4 linked regions of the Homo sapiens genome follow. The protein of the gene in region 3 purifies or fractionates together with the protein of the main gene of each other region. This does not show direct contact. Each region holds a gene or a part of one and is shown on either strand. Other genes may lie near its edges.

The links. The genes of interacting proteins can lie anywhere in the genome.
Region 1: the proteins of C10orf53 (region 3) and SPTB purify together in Homo sapiens (affinity purification with mass spectrometry; one large-scale study listed by BioGRID and IntAct). This does not show direct contact.
Region 2: the proteins of C10orf53 (region 3) and SPECC1L purify together in Homo sapiens (affinity purification with mass spectrometry; one large-scale study listed by BioGRID and IntAct). This does not show direct contact.
Region 4: the proteins of C10orf53 (region 3) and MNAT1 purify together in Homo sapiens (affinity purification with mass spectrometry; one large-scale study listed by BioGRID and IntAct). This does not show direct contact.

What each region holds. Positions count from the first base shown.
Region 1 is NC_000014.9:64,873,407-64,877,009, forward strand, and holds part of SPTB (spectrin beta chain, erythrocytic), read right to left. Parts: intron 1-3,603.
Region 2 is NC_000022.11:24,315,729-24,319,331, reverse strand, and holds part of SPECC1L (cytospin-A), read right to left. Parts: intron 1-3,603. UniProt on the Homo sapiens protein: Involved in cytokinesis and spindle organization. May play a role in actin cytoskeleton organization and microtubule stabilization and hence required for proper cell adhesion and migration.
Region 3 is NC_000010.11:49,678,139-49,682,455, forward strand, and holds the start of C10orf53 (UPF0728 protein C10orf53), read left to right. Parts: upstream 1-1,512; 5' UTR 1,513-1,559; coding exon 1,560-1,656; intron 1,657-4,317.
Region 4 is NC_000014.9:60,741,159-60,744,761, reverse strand, and holds part of MNAT1 (CDK-activating kinase assembly factor MAT1), read right to left. Parts: intron 1-3,603.

The sequences.
Region 1 (3,603 bases), on a different chromosome or scaffold from region 3:
TGCTGAAGTCCAAAATGAAGCATAAGCACAATAATGCCCAGTAAATTTGGGGTAAAGGAATGAAAAACCCAAAACATCAATTAACGGGCAGATGAACCCTTCATTTATCTATGGCATGCTACTGAGAATCCATTAATTCATGCTTTGGAACAGCATCTGTGCATACTCTGGAGGGCCATTCTTGAGGTTCTGTGGCTATGGTAAAGGGTAATACCATTAACAAGTGTCTTCTCTCCAGAACCAATGAACTTATGTGGAATATTCTGCTGAAGAAAAAAAGCAACCGCGGTCTCAACCAGAAGGCCCAGAATATTCAATTACTCCACTGAGAAGACCTGGAAACAGCCCCAGCCTCAGAACTAGGCAACTGGGTCAAAGTCAGGTTTTGGAATAAACTACTAGAGGGACATTGAGTATATAAATGTACATTTCTAATCCTGTTTTGTAACTGGAAACCAGGAATAATCAGATCTTCCCTTCACATGCTCATCATAAGATAAAATAAGATGATGTGTAGACAAAGGCATGCTGAAAATTGAGTGGACTATAGTTATCTGTGATCATCATCTTGTACTGGCTGGGATCTAATTCACTTTCTCTTCACTGCCACTGGTGAGCTTTGTCAACAAAGATTTCATCACACCCCTTTATGACTTAAAAACTTCCAGTGGCTCAAACTTCTTCACAGGCTGAACCCCAACCACCTTTCTGGTCACACTTCTGCCATGTGGAACTACACTTCATCCCCTAACCTAATCATGCTTTATTGTCTGTGCTGGGCAATTTCCTAAAGCCCCACTCGCAGGCCCCCTCATCCTCCCTTCTTCCATTATAGAAATCCTAGGCACTTTCAAAGGTCTTCTCATTCCCCAACCTGAATGAGATGTTTCCTCCTGTACACCCTCTCTCTCAGGCATCCTGTTGAATCACTGCTTGTTTGCAAGGCCATTTTCGCACCAGATCAGTGATTCTCCATCTGATCTCTTTGTGTGTCTTCAGCACATAACAGTGTAAGACACGTGGTAGACACCCAATGTCTGCTCTTTTTGAATACACCTCAATTCTCTCTCGGGCCTTTCTACCTCTAACTCTCTATGACTTATGACTCGAAGTCAGTATTATGAAAGGCCTTTTCTTGCTTTTCCACCCTTCTGGAAATATACTGGAAGATGAAGCTAATTGACCACTCCTAGGGTTCTTCTAGAAACAGGCTGGGACTCAAAAGAGGGACAGAATAAGGTTACAGACTTCTTTCTGGTCCACATAATTTATGCCTTTAAAGTATGCTTTGTTTTATTTGAATTGCTATACATTCTCAAGTGAGACACGCCCATATTTAAGTCTGGTACAAATGGAAAATATTTTCAAAGTATTCATTTTCGGAATTATTCAAGTTTCTTCTCCTTTTCACAATGGTGGAAACTCCTAAATTGACTATAATTCGAAGCAATTATTGTTCTTTAGCTATCAAGGTGCCGTTAGTCTCTTCATAAATATCCTGGATGATCTGAGCCTGGTTCAATGCAAAGCCTATTTTTTTTTCAGCCCTGTGCCTTTTCACTTGCTAAATTTATAACATTCAAATGAAAGAAAGGAAGCCCACTTTTGCCCCCACTGCTCACATGATATATGCTGAGTTTTAATTGCCCTTGTAATTCTACCCTCAGCCAGGTCTGCACAGGTATGATGTGGAAATAAAACATTATGGCAAAGCCTGAGAAGGGCTTGCTGAGGTAGGAAGAAGAGGGCTTTGTAATATTTCCTGCAACCAGGAAAAGGAAAGAGAAAAATGAAAGGTGGTCTGGGAATTTGATAAGCTAGCCAGACAATTCATTAAGGAAGCATTTTCTGTCTATGACCACCTCTAAGACTACGTGAGCTATAAAGGCTAGGGATCCCCTGATGGTTTGATATTCAGCTGAGGCTGGCTGAAAATGGAAGAATGTGGATCACTTGGCTGTGAATTAAGAAATACACGCAGCAACAGAGGGAAACACACTATGGCATTTTCTAAATATTTACCAAGGGGAGTTGGCAATCCGTGAGCAGAGCCAGATCTGACAGTTAATTCTCCTGACTGCCTCCTACGCTCTTCCTCAATCACTATCTCCATCTCCAAAACAGGTGACCTTCCCCTAATGGGGTGAAGAAGGAAGCATCTCTGTGATAAACCCAGCAAATGCCACATGATGATTCTGGCACACAGACCACTGCATCTACTCTTCTTCCTCAGATTTCTTATCTAAAACAGAGGAGTAACCTACGATCTGTCTGTTAAAATCAACTGAGTCAATACAAGCTGCTTCAAAGATAAAATTCTTCTTTCCACAGTCATTTTTGGCTTGTGATATCCATATGGTTTCAGAACCCAGTATCCATGAACTTCCTTGCCAGTCCTCATTATATAATCAAATTTCTCATCAGCCCACATAGCACAGTTATTTTCACTCTTGATCTTCCCAAGTTCATTGATAAATGTTAATCTGTAGGTCTCAGGTTATTTTTTTAAATTCTATAATTTTAAAATTCCATAACAAAGAAACATATTTTAAATCACTTTTTAATTAATTCATGAATTAGAGATGGCACCTCATTCTGTTGTCCAGGCTGGAGTACAGTGGCACAATCATAGTTCAGCCTCTCTAACTCCCTGGCTCAAGCAATCCTCCTCCCTTAGCCTCCGAAGTAACTGGGATTATAGGCATAAGCCACTATACCTGGCTTTTTTATATCAATTTTTTGTTTGTTTGTTTGAGACACAATCTCACTTTATTGTCCAGGCTGGAGTGCAGTGGCGCGATGTCGGTTCACTGCAACCTCTACCGCCCAGGTTCGAGCAATTTTCCTGTCTCAGCCTCCCGAGTAGCTGGGATTACAGGTGCCCACCACCACACCTGGCTAATTTTTGTATTTTTAGTAGAGATAGGTTTGGCCAGGCTGGTCTCGAACTCCTGAGACCAGCCTGACCAGCATGGTGAAACCCCATCTCTACTTTAAATCTCCCACTGGTCATGTTTCCTACCTTTTCAGGTCTTGAGCAGACAGTAAAATTTTGTGTTTGATTTTGAAATTAAAGTGCTGCTCTTCAAGAACAATTTGGTGATTGGGTTTAGGTTAAAACACGTATCTGACGGTCTCAACAGTTCTCTAAAGTCCTTCCCCATGCCCCCCAAAAATGGACATAATTACTTAAGATTTCTTGTCTCTAGATCGTAATGTGTATAACTATTGTTTTAAAATGTATACATGTGTACACCTTACAAGCAATGGGGGAGATTATAGAACAGTTTAGAGTTTAAAGCCTGAGACTGCCTTCTCTCCTGCTTATCCTCAGTACCTTTTCTTTAAGATTGCACTAAAATGAAAGGACTAGATATTAAAAACACATCCTCTCATAATCTCCTCCAAAGGAAATAAAATCTCAGTAGTTTGGTTAGGCAGAACTTCAGGAAGTAAACCATATTGGCCTTGAGAGTGAGACAGGAAAGAAATGAACTCGAGTAATAAGAAGTGTGGGTGCCATAGCTACACATCAATGATCAGGTACATTCAGTTAGGTCTTGCCTTTAAGCCAGTAAGTATGCACATGGAAGGCTGGGTTCA
Region 2 (3,603 bases), on a different chromosome or scaffold from region 3:
GGCTCTCATTCTCCTCCTTCCTGCCACTATGTGGAGAAGAATGTGCCTGCTACCCCTTCCACCATAATTCTAAGTTTCCAGAGGCCTCCCCATCTCTGTGGACCTGTGAGTAAATTAAACCTCTTTTCTTTATGAATTACTCAGTCTGGGGCAGTTCTTTACAGCAGCATGAGAATGGACTAATACAGATTCTAAGTGGAATACATAAGGAAGAAAGCAGAGCAGCAGAGGAGGAATGTGGGCAGGTAGATCAATGAGGTAAAAGAGGTCCCACATTCAGGGGCGGCAGTAAGAACAGAGAAGAGGCAAGAAATCTGTGACAGATATCAAAGGCAAGAGTAACCAGACTGGGATAAACAACTGTATACGGAGGCCAAAAATGGAAAAAGATGGCATAACTTTTTTTTTTTTTTTGAGGCTCTGTCACCCAGGCTAGAGTGCAGTTGTGCCATCACAGCTCACGGCAACTCTACCTCCCAGGCTCAGGTGATCCTCCCACCTCAGCCACCCGAGTAGCTAGGACTACAAGCACACGCCACCATACCCAGCTAATTTTTGTATTTTTTGTAGAGACGGGGTTTCACCACATTGGGCATGTTGCCCAAGCTGGTCTTGAACTCCTAGGCTCAAGTGATCTGCCCACCTTGGCCTCCTAAAGTGCTGGGATTACAGGCGTGCACCATCGCACCTGGCTGGGGTAACTTTTTTCCCCAACATTAATTCCTTTCCCTAGTTCTGCAAGTGGTACCACATCCTTATCTAAATCAAAAATCCTTATAAAAAAGAAAATCTGGCTCTCCCTCTCCCCTCTCCCCTCTTTCCACGGTCTCCCTCTGATGCCGAGCCGAAGCTGGACTGTACTGCTGCCATCTCGGCTCACTGCAACCTCCCTGCCTGATTCTCCTGCCTCAGCCTGCCGAGTGCCTGCGATTGCAGGCGCGCGCCGCCACGCCTGACTGGTTTTCGTATTTTTTGGGTGGAGACGGGGTTTCGCTGTGTTGGCCGGGCTGGTCTCCAGCTCCTAACCGCGAGTGATCTGCCAGCCTCGGCCTCCCGAGGTGCCGGGATTGCAGACGGAGTCTCCTTCACTCATTGCTCAATGGTGCCCAGGCTGGAGTGCAGTGGCGTGATCTCGACTTGCTACAACATCCACCTCCCAGCAGCCTGCCTTGGCCTCCCAAAGTGCCGAGATTGCAGCCTCTGCCCGGCCCCACCCCGTCTGGGAAGTGAGGAGCGTCTCTGCCTGGCCGCCCATCGTCTGGGATGTGAGGAGCCCCTCTGCCTGGCTGCCCAGTCTGGAAAGTGAGGAGCGTCTCTGCCCAGCCGCCATCCCATCTAGGAAGTGAGGAGCGCCTCTTCCCGGCCGCCATCCCATCTAGGAAGTGAGGAGCGTCTCTGCCCGGCCGCCCATCATCTGAGATGTGGGGAGCGCCTCTGCCCTGTCGCCCCGTCCGGGATGTGAGGAGCGTCTCTGCCCGGCCGCACCATCTGAGAAGTGAGGAGACCCTCTGCCTGGCAACCGCCCTGTCTGAGAAGTGAGGAGCCCCTCCGCCCAGCAGCCGCCCCGTCTGAGAAGTGAGGAGCCCCTCCGCCCGGCAGCCACCCCGTCTGGGAAGTGAGGAGCATCTCTGCCGGGCAGCCACCCCGTCCAGGAGGGAGATGGGGGGGTCAGCCCCCCGCCTGGCCAGCCGCCCCGTCCGGGAGGGAGGTGGGGGGATCAGCCCCCCGCCCGGCCAGCCGCCCCGTCCGGGAGGCGAGGGGCGCCTCTGCCCGGCCGCCCCTACTGGGAAGTGAGGAGCCCCTCTGCCTGGCCAGCCGCCCCGTCCGGGAGGGAGGTGGGGGGGTCAGCCCCCTGCCCAGCCAGCCGCCCCGTCCGGGAGGTTGGGGGGTCAGCCCCCCGCCCGGCCAGCGCCCCATCTGGGAGGTGAGGGGCGCCTCTGCCCGGCCGCCCCTACTGGGAAGTGAGGAGCCCCTCTGCCCGGCCAGCCGCCCCGTCCGGGAGGGAGGTGGGGGGGGTCAGCCCCCCGCCTGGCCAGCCGCCCCGTCCGGGAGGGAGGTGGGGGGGGTCAGCCCCCCGCCCGGCCAGCCGCCCCATCCGGGAGGTGAGGGGCGCCTCTGCCCGGCCGCCCCTACTGGGAAGTGAGGAGCCCCTCTGCCCAGCCAGCCGCCCCGTCCGGGAGGGAGGTAGGGGGGTCAGCCCCCCGCCCAGCCAGCCGCCCCGTCCAGGAGGGAGGTGGGGGGGTCAGCCCCACCGCCCGGCCAGCCACCCCCTCCGGGAGGGAGGTGGGGGGGTCAGCCCCCCGCCCGGCCAGCCGCCCCGTCCAGGAGGTGAGGGGCGCCTCTGCCCGGCCGCCCCTACTGGGAAGTGAGGAGCTCCTCGGCCCGGCCAGCCGCCCCGTCTGGGAGGGAGGTTGGGGGGGTCAGCCCCCCGCCCGGCCAGCCGCCCCATCCAGGAGGTGAGGGGCGCCTCTGCCCGGCCGCCCCTACTGGGAAGTGAGGAGCCCCTCTGCCCGGCCACCACCCCGTCTGGGAGGTGTACCCAACAGCTCATTGAGAATGGGCCATGATGACAATGGTGGTTTTGTGGAATAGAAAGGGGGGAAAGGTGGGGAAAAGATTGAGAAATCGGATGGTTGCCGTGTCTGTGTAGAAAGAGGTAGACATGGGAGACTTTTAATTTTGTTCTGTACTAAGAAAAATTCTTCTGCCTTGGGATCCTGTTGATCTGTGACCTTACCCCCAACCCTGTGCTCTCTGAAACATGTGCTGTGTCCACTCAGGGTTAAATGGATTAAGGGCGGTGCAAGATGTGCTTTGTTAAACAGACGCTTGAAGGCAGCATGCTCGTTCAGAGTCATCACCACTCCCTAATCTCAAGTACCCAGGGACACAAACACTGCGGAAGGCCGCAGGGTCCTCTGCCTAGGAAAACCAGAGACCTTTGTTCACTTGTTTATCTGCTGACCTTCCCTCCACTATTGTCCTGTGACCCTGCCAAATCCCCCTCTGCGAGAAACACCCAAGAATGATCAATAAATAAATAAATAAATAAATAAAAAGAAAATCTGTTCATGTTTGAAAGATAAAAGAAGAAAAATTCTTCTCTGGATTACTGTAATGAGTAGACAGAATAATCTGAGGTAAAGACAAGTGAATTGATACATGGAAATCAAACAGTCTTAGGAAAGTCACTGGAGGAGGTAAAGGTAGAGCAGATGAACTGAAGAATAAGGATGTTGTTATAGGCTGAACTGTGCCCGCACAAAACACACAAAATTAATATGTTGAAGCCCTAACCCCAAAACCTCAAATGTGACTGCACCTGGAGACAGGATAATGAAGTTAAAGAGGTAATTAACGTAAGATGAAGTCATTAGGGTGGGCCCTAATCCAACATGACTGGCGTTCTTGTAAGAGGAGGAGATGAGGACACACACACAGAGGGAAGACACAGAGAAGGCAGCCATCTGCAAGACAAAAAAGAGATCTCAGGAGAAAGTAAATCTGCTAACACCCTCATTTCAGACTTCTGGCTTCCAGATTTGAGAAAATAAATTTCTGTGGCTTAAGCCATCCAGTCTGTGGTATTTTGTTATGACATCC
Region 3 (4,317 bases):
GAGAGGTAAAATATACAGTAGCATACGTTGAGAGAATTAGTGGGAAAGGGTTTTTTAAATCCTTTACTGTTACAGTAAAACTACAGAAAGCAAGAGATAAAGAAACATAAGCGGTCTTGAAAACAGAAGAGTAACGGAAAACAACTATTCATACAAAACTTTTAGCAAAGTTAAAACAACGTTAAATTTCTAATTAATAAAAACACTACAGTGAGTAGAGGATTTTTGCCTTTAAAGACGTGTACAAAGTTTATAGAGAACCAGAAAATAAGTCCTTCTAAGACAAGACAGGTAACCACATAGAGCCAAGAGGATGAATAATGACATCATGTACAGTCCTGCCTTCCTCCATAGTCTGCTGGGTTCAGCTGTGTTGGTGAATTCAGTGGTTCTTGTCCGATGGTGCGAAACTCAAGTGCTGGGGGAAATTATGTATGACCCATAATAATGTCAAAATTCTGCTGATATCATTCCTCTATTTAACAATCGTGTATAAACTAATTCTCATCAAAGAAATATGTATCATAGAACATACTGTACACGTGGAGAGAATTAAAATACACAGTAGCATACGTTGGGAGAATTAGTGGGAAAGGGTTTTTAAAATCCTTTACTGTTCAAAAGGAGGGTAAAAATATCAACTACAATTGAATATTTAGAAAGTAAAGAAATGCTGTAATCGCAAGGGTATTGCGATTGTTAGGTTGGGCTAATTTCTGTAATAAACAACCCCCAAAATCTCAGTGGTTATGGAATAAATGTTTCCTTCTGGCTTCGGTCACCAACTAATGCAGATGGGTGGGGCTCTATTCGGCGCAGCTACTCAGTGGTCCAGGTTCCTCCCACGTTTTGGGTCTGTCTCCCCGGGAGCCTCGGGTCCTCCCTGGGATCCCGTATCTGGCTACCGATAAGAAGAGGGAGACAGCAGGTGTGGAGGAGACTTTTTAGGAGCCATGCCTAGAAGTGGTGGATGTCTTTTATGTCCAAATTCCAATGAGCAGAACTGAGCAAATAAAAGGGAATTGGACGAATTCAGTTTTGGCTCCACCAAATAGCCTAACTGGTGACAGAAGGGGCCGGGGGAAGAAGGTGGGGGAAGAAGAATGATGAACGAATACTCCCAATCAATCAAAAAGAGGCAAGAAAATAGAAGAAATGCAAGGGTTTCCAATCCATACTACACCCCTGTCACTCTTGGGACCGCAACTTGCCCTCCCAGAGCCTCGGTTTTGTAAACAAAAAACATAAAATACTTCCTAGGGATGGTAAACTGATTCAACCAGATAACGCAGGGAAAATGCTTCGCACGCCGCCTGACACGAACTTACTGTGCCTGGCTGCTGCTGTTATTTATCACTAACACTTGCCACACCAGCTCAAACGCGCGTATTTGCGGACCAGGCGCTGAGGGTCACGTGAGCAGCTTGGGGCCGGGAGGATCCCCTAGCGCCACCCCGGCCCCGCCCGGCGCGTAGCGACGCCCACGCGCCCGGGCCGGAAGAGAGGTTGCTTAGCAGCGTGTGTTTCTCCCTTGCCTCTGCGGCGGCGGAGGCCTGGCGATGCCCAAGAACGCAGTGGTCATCCTGCGCTATGGGCCCTACAGCGCGGCAGGCCTACCGGTGGAGCACCACACCTTCCGCCTGCAGGGCCTGCAAGGTGGGCCTCCTCGCCGCGTGCGCCCCTGAGGGCCCCAGCCTCTGAGCATCCGTGCAGGTGGTGCCCTGTGCCTAGGCCTTCCTCAGACCCCCACGAAGCGCCACCTCTCCAGGAAGTCTTCCCCAGGATGATGTTGCAACCTATGGCTTCCAGGGCTGGGCTAAAAGAGTGGGAAGGCTCTTCTATCCAAGAGTGAGCTGTGGGCCCACCCAGTGCCCAGCAAATTACAGAAATTACCTCCATAGAAAAAATTACATAACCCTGCTTTAAGAATTGGGAAACTGAGGATCAAGAATATTAAGTGACTTTCACAACTCAAATGGCTGGGAAGTAGCGTTGCTGGTATTCCATCTCTTAATCGTTCATGCAGCAGACTTTTATTAAGCACGCAGTGTGTGTTGGACACCCTTCCAGGGACTGAGGACACACTGTTAAACAGTGATGAATGTCCTTGAAGTAATCTCCTTGTTAACTGCTAAATGACAGCTGTGCCTAAGCTCTGACTGAGGCTAGGTGGTGCCATGGGAGCTAACCACAGTGGGACCTGTGACTAGCCATAATGGGAGGGGAGAGGGAGAGGTCTGGAAAGGCTCATTTAAGTGGAGCCTTAAATGAGCCCACATTTAAGTAGACCTTTAAAGAATGAGTAGAAACTAACCAGGTAAAGAGAGGAATGCCTTCCAGGCAGAGGGACTAATAATATAGGCAATGGCTGGAGGCATTCAATAAATGATGTATTAATATTTGTTAAACTGATGGGGGATGAGGCTGGAGAGGTAATCAGGCCAGATCCTGCAGTGCCGCAGATAAGTTTTAGGCAGGGGATGAAGCTGTTGCTGCTCTGAGGAGAACAGATTAGAGGGGGCAAGAGTGGAAACAAGGAAGACAAGTCTGTTGGGGTGGTCCAGGGCTGAGATGAGAGTAGCTTGGACCATAAAGGAGACCATGGATCAAAGTGAAAGCAATGGTACTTCCTGAGAGGATGGAGGTGGGAGGTAAGGGTAAAAAGAATGTTATCCGGATCTAATCAGTGTCTGACTTGAAACAGTGCTGATGGATGGATGTACTGTCCACTAAAATCAAAGACACCAAAGATGGACCAAAATTTGGAGGAATATGTGGAATCGTTCCAAAGGAACAGTCTATTTTGGTCATACAGATAGTCCCCAACTTAGACTTCTTGACTTTAGCATGGGTTTATTGGGAGGTAACCCTATCCTAAGTTGAGGCACATCTGAACCTACAATGGTTCCACTTAACGATTTTTCCACTTTATGATGGGCTTATCCAGGTATTAAGCCCACTTTCCACTTACAGTGGGCTCATTGGGACCTAGCCCCATCATAAGTCAAGGAGCATCTGAATTAAGCTTCATGTGCTTTCGGCTACCTAGACAGAGGTGCTGAATCAGCTCTGTTGTTCTGGAGTTCAGAGAAAAAGTCTGAAATGGAGATAGAAAGATGTGAGTCATTGACTTGGAGAGAACATATAGAATGAGATGAGAGCCCAGGAATGACCATTGATGAACTCCCATCCTATGACCCAAACTAAGAGTCTTCCAGGCAAAATACCCTGAAGCCTAAGGACACAAAAATTAGTTTTAGCTGAGCAATCAGGGAAAGCCTCCTGGAAGAGATGGCATTTGAGTTTGAGTTTGAAGGATGGGTAGGATTTCAATCAGCAGAGGAAGTTACTTTCTGTGAGAGAACAGTTGATAGAGAAATTTCTGTTGCAAATACCTCCATGTTTGTATTTGTCTATTGGGATTGCCAAAACAAAATACCATAGACTATGGGACTTAAACAATAGAAATATATTTTTTCAGTCTAAAGGCTAAAAGTCCCTGATCAAGGTCTGGCAAGGTCAGCTTCTGGTGAGGGCTCTGGGCGCTCTTCCTGGCTTGCTGACAGCCACCTTCTCTTTTGTCCTCACCTGGTGGGATTATATGGGGAGAGCGGGGAGCAAGCTCACTGGTGTCTCTTCTTATAAGAAGAAAGACACTAATCCTATCAGATTGGGTCCTCATCCTTATAACCTCATTTAACCTTAATTACCTCTTTAAGCACCTGTAGTCACATTGGGAGTTAGGGCTTCCATATATGAAGTTGGGGGAAGGGGGGCAACAATTCAATTCCTAGCAGTGTTGCATGGTGATGTTTAAAATGTTTTGTAGTTTTGGCTAAGAAGACAGCCTAAATAAGTGACTTTTCTCTTCCTCCCCCTCTGATGAGCCACACCTACCCACCCTCACCTCATAATCTACCTTTAGTTTATGTTCACTGTCTCTAAAAATAACGTGGGTAAAACATATATTTAAAATGTTGCCATTTTAACCATGTTAAGCATACAATTCAGTGACATTAATTATCTTTACAATGTTGTGGAACCATCACTATTCTCTCTTTTTAAAATTTTTCAACACCCCAGACAGAAACTGTATTCCTTAAGCAACAACACCCTATCCCTCTGTGTCCAGAATTTATTCCTTCTGGTGGGTTCATGGTCTCGCTGACTTCAAGAATGAAGCCAGGGACCTCGCGGTGAGTGTTACAGCTCTTAAAGGTGGTGCATCCAGAGTTGTTTGTTCCTCCTGGTGGGCTCGTGGTCTCGCTGACTTCAGGAATGAAGTTGCAGACCCTTGCAGTGAGTGTTACAGCTCTT
Region 4 (3,603 bases), on a different chromosome or scaffold from region 3:
CCTAACAAAGACTAAAATCAAGCCCCAACAAGTTTTTGAAGGGATTAAAAATGTGAGGTTGAGTTACACTAAAGTAAGGAAACAATGGGTTCTCCACATATCATTCTAGCAAAGAGTAAAACCAAGCCTACACAAGTTCAAAGTTATCTGCCAGTAACTGAACTACCTGCAAGAATTTTTAAAATCAACACTTTTCACAAAAATACAAAATCCAGAATCTCTATAATATACCACCTACAATTAAAAAGTAGTAAACATGCAAAAATAAATAAGCAGAAAACTGTAACCTACAGTCAAATAAAAGCAGTCAATAGAAACCAACCCTGAGATGGCTGGGCGTGATGGCTCACACCTGTAATCCCCGCACTTTGGGAGGCCGAGGCACGCAGATCACTTGAGGTCAAGAGCTTGGGACCAGCCTGGCCAACAGGGCAAAACCCCATCTCTACTAAAAATACAAAAATTAGCCAGGCATGGTAGCAGGCACCTGTAATCCCAGCTACTTGGGAGGCTGATGCAGGAGAATCACTTGAACCTAAGAGGTGGAGGTTGCAGTGAGCCAAGATCATGCCACTGCACTCCAGCATGGGCAACAGAGTGAGGCTCTCTCAAAAACACAAACAAAAAAGAAACCAACCCTGAGATAGCCAAGGAGTTAACTCTTACAGACAGAAACCTTAAGATTGACTATCATAAATATTTTAAAGGAATTAATGGAAAATATGTTCAAAAAATTAAAGGAAAATGCATTCAAAGAACTAAAGAAAAATATATTCTTGATGAGTATATAGATGGGAAATATCAGAGAAATGAAAACTATAAAAAAGATAAAAATGAAAACTCTACGACCAAAACAATACAATAAGAAATGAAAAATCTATTGGATGAGATTAGAAATGGCAGACAGGCAACAGTGAACCTGAAGATAGATCAATAGAAAATATATAATCTAAAGAACAGGGAGAAAGAGATATGAGTAAAATTAACTTCTCAACAGAAACACTAGAGAACAATGAAATGATATCTTTTGTATGGTCAAAGAAATGCCAACCCATAATTCTATATTCAGCAAAAATATCCTTCAAACACTAGGGTGAAATAAAAACACTTTCTTATAAACAAAATCAGAGTATATTCTTCACCAACACACCTACACTATAAGAAATGCTAAGGAGCTGGGCGCAGTGGCTCACGCCTGTAATCTCAGCACTTTGAGAGGCTGAGGCAGGCGAATCACCTGAGGTCAGGAGTTCAAGGCCAGCCTGGCCAACATGGTGAAACTCCATCTCTACTGAAAATACAAAAATTAGCCGGGCATGGTGGCACACACCTGTAATCCCAGTTACTCAAGAGGCTGAGGCAGGAGAATCGCTTGAACCTGGGAGGCGGAGGCTGCAGTGAGCCGAGATTGTGCCATTGTACTCCAGCCTGGGCGACAGAGCAAGACTCCGTCTCAAAAAAAAAAAGAAATGCTAAAGAATGTTCTTTAGGCAGATGGAAATCAATATGACTATAAAATCAGATCCAAAGGAAGAAGGGCAATATCAAAGATAGTAAATAGGTGAAAATAAGAGACTATATTTCACCACTTCATACCCACTAGAATGGCTATAATCAAAAGACAACTATAACAAGCATTGGCAACTACATAGAGAGACTAGAGCCCTCATTCACTGCTATAAGATGGTACAGCCACATTGGAAAACAAACTAAACAAAGAGTTACCATATGATCCAATAATTCTACTCCTAAATATATACATGAGAGAAACAAAAACATTTGTCCATACGAAAACTTGTACATGAATGTTCACAGCAGCATTATTCATAACAGCCAAAAAGTAGAAATGACTCAAATGTTCTTCAACTGATGAATGGATAAAATGTAGTATAGCCATACAATGGAATAATATTCAGCAATAAAAAGAAATGTTGTACTCATACATGCTACAACATGGATGAACCTAGAAAATATTACACTATGTAAAAGAAGCCAGTCCAGAGAACCACATACTGTATGATTCCATTTATATGAAAGGTCCAGAATAGGAAAATCTACATAGTCAGAAAGTAGATAACTGGTTGCCTAGTGCTATGGGAGGGGGGAGTTGAGGAGTGTGACGGCTAAGTGGTGAGAGGTATCTTTGTGGGGTAATATGTACATCTCTGAGAATATACTAAAAGCCATTGAAACGTACACTTTAAATGTGTGAATTTTATGGTACGTGAATTATATTCAGTGAAGTAGTTTTTTAAAAACATACCTTTCCTTAAAGACAACTGACTGTTTAAAGCAAAAATAACAACAAATCACAAATACAAATAAAAGATATGCTGAAAGAAACCACTAATAATAATAATAACAATGAGGAGTTAATTGTTGGCCATAAAAGGTGACTGTAATCCCAGAACTTTGGGAGGCTGAGGTGGGTAGATCACTTGAGGCCAGGAGTTTGAGACCAGCCTGGGCAACACAGTCAGAGACTAGCTCTACAAAAAAAAATTAAAAATTAGCTGGCTGTGGCAGTGCACACCTGTAGTCCCAAATTCTGGGGTGGCTGAAGTGGAAGGATCCCTTGAACCCCTGAGTTCAAGGTTGCAGTGACCTGTGATAAAGCCACCACACTCCAGCCTGGGTGATAGAGTGAGATCCTGTCTCTTATTTAAAAAAAAATAAAAATAAATAAAAAATAAAAAGCTACCGGCTAATAGGCCAATACTTTAAAAAATCCAATTATTTCAAAATAAGGCAGGAAAGGAGCAAAAGAACAACAAAAAAACCAAAGGAATACAAGGAAACATGTAGACTTAAACCCAATGATATCAATAATTAGATATAATGGACTAGTACACCAATTAAAAGGCAGAGATTGTCAATCCAGATAAAATGGCAAGACCCAGTGAAGTAGAGTCTCCCAGAGACAGACACAAATTGGTTGAAAGTAAATGGATGGGGGCCAGGTACAGCAGCTCACTCTTGTAATACCTACATTTTGGGAGGCCCAGGCAGGAGGATCACTTGCGCTCAGGCGTTTGAGACCAGCTTGGGAAACATAGCAAGACCCCATCTCTACTAAAAATTAAAAAAAAAAAAAAAAAAAAAACCCCAGGCGCAGTGGCTCACGCCTGTAATCCCAGCACTTTGGGAGGCCGAGGCAGGAGGATCACGAGGTCAGGAGATCGAGACCATCCTGGCTAACACAGTGAAACCCTGTCTCTATTAAAAATACAAAAAATTAGCCAGACGTGGTGGCCCGTGCCTGTAATCCCAGCTACTCGGAAGGCTGAGGCAGGAGAATGGTGTGAACCTGGGAGGCGGAGCTTGCCGTGAGCTGAGATCGCGCCACTGCACTCCAGCCTGGGCAACAGAGCGAGATTCCATCTCAAAAAATAAAAATAATAAATACATAAATAAATAAATAAGCCAGGTGTGGTGCCATGCACCTGTAGTCCTAGCTACTCAAGAGGATGAGGCAGGAGGATCATTTGAGCCCAGGAGTTTATGATTGTGCCACTGATATTACATGGGTTAAAAAATTTTTTTAAAGTAAATGAACGGAAAAATGCACACTATCAAATAGTAAGCACAAGAAATCTGACAGTG